Linked DNA regions of Homo sapiens: region 2 is linked to region 1. The links come from fine-mapping of genetic effects on gene expression. A gene starts in region 1. The other region holds a variant in brackets. All regions are shown on one strand. Distances are between the middles of the regions. Region 1 holds the start of CBLL1-AS1 (CBLL1 antisense RNA 1). Region 2 overlaps SLC26A4 (solute carrier family 26 member 4).

Region 1 (2,919 bases):
AGCTCAATAATGGACCCTACCTAGTTGCTCAAACCAAAAGCCTAGGCATTTCTCCTTTCTCTCACATTCCTTCAAACACCACCAGAGTATTTACTGAAGCTGCCCATTCTCCTTCATTTTCACCAAACCAACCTTCCCTTCCCGTCTACTGCAATCAGCTATTTTCCATCATTCTTACCTCCCTCTCTTACACCATTCTTCATAGAACAGCCTATTGTATTTTTTAAGAGACTGTGTTCCTCCTCCACTTCTGTTCAATGGCTTCATATTCACTTAAATTAAAATTCAAACGTTTACCACGGCTTTCAATGACCTGAATGATGTGCCTGCTGCCCTCCTTTCCAATCTCACTTCAGGACTCCTACCCTCTGGCTATTAGGAGGCTGCAGCTGACTTCACTGTATCTTCCTACCTCAGTGCCTTCGCACTTGCTGGAAATGCTCTTCCTCTTGCTTTTTTCCCAGGGCTGGGTTCTTCTCATCCATCAGATCTTAGCTTCCACAAAGACCATTCCTAACAACCCTCTCTGAAATTTCGTCCTATGAATCTCTCCACAGCACTCGTTTATTTTCTTCAAAATAATCCGCAAACATTAAAAAAATAATAAATTTAAAAAAAAAGAACGTATTGTCTGTGTTCCTCCATAAAACAGAAGTTCTATCACGGACCTGGTCCGTCTCGTTTACCATTCCATCTTCCATCTCCCGACCTATAGATATCTGCATGTATCTTGCATAAATAAACATACACACCTACATAAATAAACATACACACCTAATTATATAACCAAGTAGATATCTGATGAGTGAGGACAACTCAATACTCAAGAAAAAGCCTTTTTTTCTCTATTTGTGATACGGTCGCTATAAATGTATGGGGCACATAACTCCAAGAGCACTCATTCAATATCCAAGAACCACAAAGAAGCAAAAGCCAGAAAATACATAACAAAGGGTGGAGCCACTCTTACTTGGAGAAAAGTATGAGAATGCCTTGATTTTAAACTCCTCTTTGTAAATACCCTCAAATGATGAGTAAGGACCTCAGCCGAAGCGCGGGGCATGCTTTTGGTTTAGGTAGAAAAACTGCTCCGAGTTTGATTCCAAAAACTCTATCAGACTCCCTTCTTTCACCCCTCTAGTCCATAAAGGATCGGAGAGACGACAGGGGGTGACCACTGCAGCACCCGCCCAAAGCTGACTGAGACAGCAGGAAGTCTCCAACCCATTCTCGCCCGTCCACTCCCAGCGTAAAGAGGATTCCGCGACTCGGAGACCGCAATCTACCCGCCAGTCTCCATAACGTAGGCCAGAGCAGCTGGGCTAAATAAAACAGAGCCGGGGCTCTCCCTTCCCGAAGGCCTACATCGCCCACTGGTCCGGGCTCGGAGCTCAGCAGAACCAGAGTAGGAGCGGTTGTTGCCGGCACGGAGGAGGTAGGTACCACACCAGACGGTAGGCCAGGAAACCGCAGGCCCCTGCCGGGCACAGGAAGGCATCTGTGAGATTTCTTCTCACTGCCACACCCTAGTGTTGTGGGGCGAGCATAATCCCTTTTGCCTGCTGTGCGACCAGCCCCAGGCCGGCCAAGGGGGCTTGGAACCGGGACCCCCACTGCCTCCGCCTCCTTACCAGTGTGATCCATGATTCGGCTCGCAGAGCACAGTGGGAGCGGAAGTCAACCGCGCCGGAGTCGCAGCGAGCGCGTGCGCACTGCCTTCCGGAGGCCGGGAGGCGGAAGTCCAAGCAGGTTGTCCCAATTTTGGCCTGCAAAGACTTCCTTCTCTCGCCTCTACTATCCAACTCCTGTGAGGGACTCAGGCATAGTTCGGGCGGAGGCAGAAAGAGCGAGCGCGCGAAGAACTTCGGTATTGAGGTTGCTAAGGCTTCTCCTCATGTGCTTCAAGAGAAAGTAGCCTTTAACTGTGGAAAGGACACCAGGGGGACCGGGGAAGGGGAGAGCAGTGGTAAAAATGAGCCAGAAGCAGATAAGGCGACTGCCCGCCCCGCGGAGAGCTGCCTTCTGGGACTTGTAGTGCGCGGGGCCCCCGGAGCCGGCTGGCTGCGCAGGCTCGGCCGTTGCGCTGGCCCCACCCCGGCGGGCGGAGTAACGGTTTGGAATCCCCCGGGGTCAGCGAGCGCTTGTTTCCTCCGCCTGGTGTAGCAAAAGTGTAAACACGCGCGCTCCGGAAGGCGCCCTCCAGTGGGAGGTTGCTCAGGGGATGGCGGAGCTGTGAAACTCGGAGCTAGAAGGAAAGTCTCAACGCTTGTCTAAATTTTGCTTTGTCGTGACGAGCTACCTAGACCCACGCAGAGCTAACTTGGTATATGCCCCGGTTCCCATCTCTTAAGTCTCTTTACAGTTGAAACACGTTTATAATGCTTGACTGCCACTCACTTTCTAGGGAGAGCGCTTGTGACGCTACGAACCTCTCGAACACCTGACGACTGGGCGCCAGGGCCGGATGGAGGGTGGAGAGCCAGTGCGGCGCAGCTGCCTCCTCTTAACGGGGACACCTTGCAGGAATGTGCGGAGTGGAGCTAACGGGAGCGGATAGAAACCGAGGGAGGGGAAGAGAGCGCGAAGGCTTGGCCGGAAGGAGAGGTTAAAAAGGAAAGGCCTAAAATGAGGAAGAGAGTTACCACAACAAGCAGTACCTAGTTCCAGTTCTTGGTCCCAGGAGTTTGTGGTTGTTGCTGCTTTCATCTTCCTCAGCCAACACAAAAGGAAAGTGCCAAGGGGCGATTCCTAGGACCTTCAGTGCAGTCTCCACCTTGCGGACTTGGCTCATTTGTGTCCACTCCTTTCTCCAGCCTTTTACACTTGATGCTCTTGGATGAATAGAAAGGAGCACAATTAATGGAAAACACAAGCTTGGGAGTCAAGGGATTTGGGTTCTATTCTTGTCCTCCCTTGGTG
Region 2 (2,919 bases), 60 kb after region 1:
CTTAATGGAGGATTGAAGCAGGGAGGAGATCAAAAGGGGGCATATCACAATCTCTCTGTCCCTCTTCCTTTCACTGTGCTCACCTCAGGGCCACTTTAAAACTCTGCTTGCTTTTTTCCAATCTCTCCACTCCCTTTCTTTTTCAGGTTTGTTAATATCATCAGAATTGCTTCTGTGCTACCAAGTGAGATCAGATAACCAAGGCCTTTGTTGTGGCTTGTTTATAATGACATAGGCTTGGGTATTTTATTCCTTCAACAAGTGTTTTCTGAGAGCTTACTGTGAGATGAGCTCTGTGCTCTGGGACAGAGCTGAACAACACCAATGGGGTCACTGCCCTCATGGAGTAGCTTAAAGTCCCTGGGGCCAGGCAGGTTAAATTAGCTGACCAAGCTGACCAGGTGGTCTGTCAAAGGATTCAGCTTCATTAAACTCAAGGGCGAGAGGCTAGAAATCTGTTCTCAGGAGGAGAGCACAGGAAAGCTCTGCAGAGGACCTGGAGGGATAATTTAGGGCAGAAGAAATGAGTTCCCTAAACCAACTAATGGAACACGGATGGATGGGACAGGGCCTGCTCTGTGGACCACCTATAACTTGATACATCCTAGGAAGCCTGACAAAAGAGATCTGTAAAGTATCTTTTTCTGTAATTGTTTCTAACTAATGAAATTATCTAGTTGTTAGATTAGATTTGTTGATCCTCTCTTAAAGAGTTTCTCCAGTTTCCTTGAGGGCAAGAATCACTTGAGGCACTTTTGAAAAATATTAATTCCTGAGCCCCACCTCTGGAAAGCCTGATTCAATAGGTTTGGGGTGGGAACCAGGAATCTGTGTGAAAAAGGATCCCATGTGATTCTTACAAAAGGGTAAGTTTGAGAAACACTGTAATGGATAGCATGCAAATTAAGTCCCATGTAGCCAGCTGTGCTTTTTCAAATAGTTTGGAACAGATATTAGAGGAAATTATAAGATTCATCAAATGGGAATACAGCAGTTCCCTGTAGAATAAGCTCTGGGAATAAGCTTGCCTGAGGAAGTTTCTATTAAGAGCATGGAAAACAAACACTGGTACCAAA[C/G]AGTGGCTCCGTGCCCTTCCCTCCCCTCCACTCCCTTTCCTGGTAGAAACACCGGTACCAAACTCTTCCAGTCTTAGGGAAAACTAGTACTTCTTGATTAACAGCAAGTCTAGTCTTAAATGTTATGAGTGTATGTTACAAATATAATAAACGTCTAGGCCTCCTTTGTAACCCCATATGAGAAAATTATGGTGTAGGGTGTCTTGACTACTCTTCATTTCATGAGAGATCTCACTGGTGTTTCATAATAAGCTTGAGTTGAGGCTTCGGCTGTTTTCATTATCCTTGTCTTATATAGGAGAATCTCCTCAGGTCACAAAACTGGAAGGTGACAGAGATGAATGAAGGACCTTGATCTTTTACTCTTCTAATTCACCAAACTACCAAATGTTTCTAAAACTTCCCTTGAAGATAATGCATTTTACTTATGGGTACGAGGATATAATTATTATCCAAAATTGATTAAACTAAATGATAGAGAATTTAGGCCAGACGTCCCTGATTCCTTAAGCAGATTGTTCACAGTGCAATAGATGTTACTGAGAAATGATTCTATTTATATTATATTATAATGTTATGTATAAGTTTAAATCAGGACTCTGGTGTTAACCGTACATGTTCTGCCATGTTTTAAGAAAATGAAGAAAAAAGAGCATATACGGGCTGCTTTTAAACAAATGGCTTGACGTTTATCTACACACATACTGTTTGTCTTATGGTTGTTTCTTCCAGATCACACACAAATAGGACTATTGAAGGAGTATCAGTGAAATGAAGCTTGTAATAAAAGGTTTTATTTAAATAAAAAAGACTGACTTACTGACTTAATGTATTAGTACTAAGAGGAACACCACACTCACCCCCTTGGGATGGATTTAACAATGCCAGCATTGTAATTTTTTTCCAGGTTGGCTCCATATGAAATGGCAGTAGCAATTATCGTCTGAAATAAAACAAAAGATGTTAAAAACTCCATTGGTTTTAATAATTCCTTGTTTGTCAACCAAATAATGCTGAACTTTCTAACTACATATTCTACTTACCACAATTACTTCTATAGGAATAGGGACTGGGATTTTGTGTCTAAACCGATCATTTAATTCCTTAACTGCCATACAGACGACAATGGTGAGCAATCCAGCAGTGAAATCAGCAAGATTGGTATCACCAATATTTTGAAAAATCTCAACCAGCGTCTATAAAAAGAAAATAATTTTATATACTTCCTGCTGCTACACGCACACGAGCACACACACACGCACACACACACAATCAATTCTCATATGAATCTTCCCACATGAAAAACCATGATATCAGCATCAAACAACACTCAAAAGTTTCAGTAAAATGATAAAAATGTGTTGGTTGATACAGAGACCATTACATACATACAATTGCTGCAATATATATATACACCAAGTTTTTTATGATTGTTTACTTGGAAAGGAAAAACTGGGTGATTTCTACATTCTTATTTTTGCTTCTCTGTATTTTTTATGATAATAATAAAGATGTCTTAAAAGAAAAAATGTCATTATAAACATACTAACTTTTACTTACAGAAATGCTTTACAAGTTTATATTTTAAAATGGGTTTCTAGGTGCTATCAAGTAGCCTGATTTTTACTACAGTGATACAGCATTGAGACTAAAGGCTGATAAACCTGAAACTCCCAGTTGATCAGTTGGTTGTTTTTTTTGTGTGTGTATATGTGTGTATGTGTGTGTGTGTGTGTTCTTTCTTTCTAGCTTTCTTTTTTTTGGGGCACAATTAGCCAGTATTTTAGGTAAAGTTCTTTCCTAAACCTGAATGATATAGATAATAACAAAAAATTACAAAAAA

What was found. PIP is the estimated chance that this variant, and not a neighbour inherited with it, causes the effect. A credible set is the group of variants that fine-mapping cannot tell apart.
Region 2: its variant is the best candidate, but not a certain one, in a credible set for the expression of CBLL1-AS1 in tibial artery (GTEx, PIP 0.90).

The regions. Positions count from the first base shown.
Region 1 is chr7:107,742,889-107,745,807 of GRCh38, reverse strand. CBLL1-AS1 (CBLL1 antisense RNA 1) reads left to right here and starts at 1,227. Exons shown (of 2, transcript NR_144537.1): 1 at 1,227-1,435; 2 at 2,405-2,919. It overlaps CBLL1 (Cbl proto-oncogene like 1), which reads right to left and starts at 1,666. Exons shown (of 6, transcript NM_024814.4): 1 at 1,632-1,666. The coding sequence starts at 1,644. RefSeq lists enhancers at 1,192-1,371, 1,722-1,941, 2,039-2,557, 2,558-2,919 and a silencer at 1,982-2,181.
Region 2 is chr7:107,682,555-107,685,473 of GRCh38, reverse strand. It overlaps SLC26A4 (solute carrier family 26 member 4), which reads right to left. Exons shown (of 21, transcript NM_000441.2): 7 at 2,120-2,272; 8 at 1,937-2,019. Among named protein-coding and RNA genes, the nearest start is that of SLC26A4-AS1, 22 kb to the right of the region's middle. The variant C/G (reference allele first, on the strand shown) is at 1,077.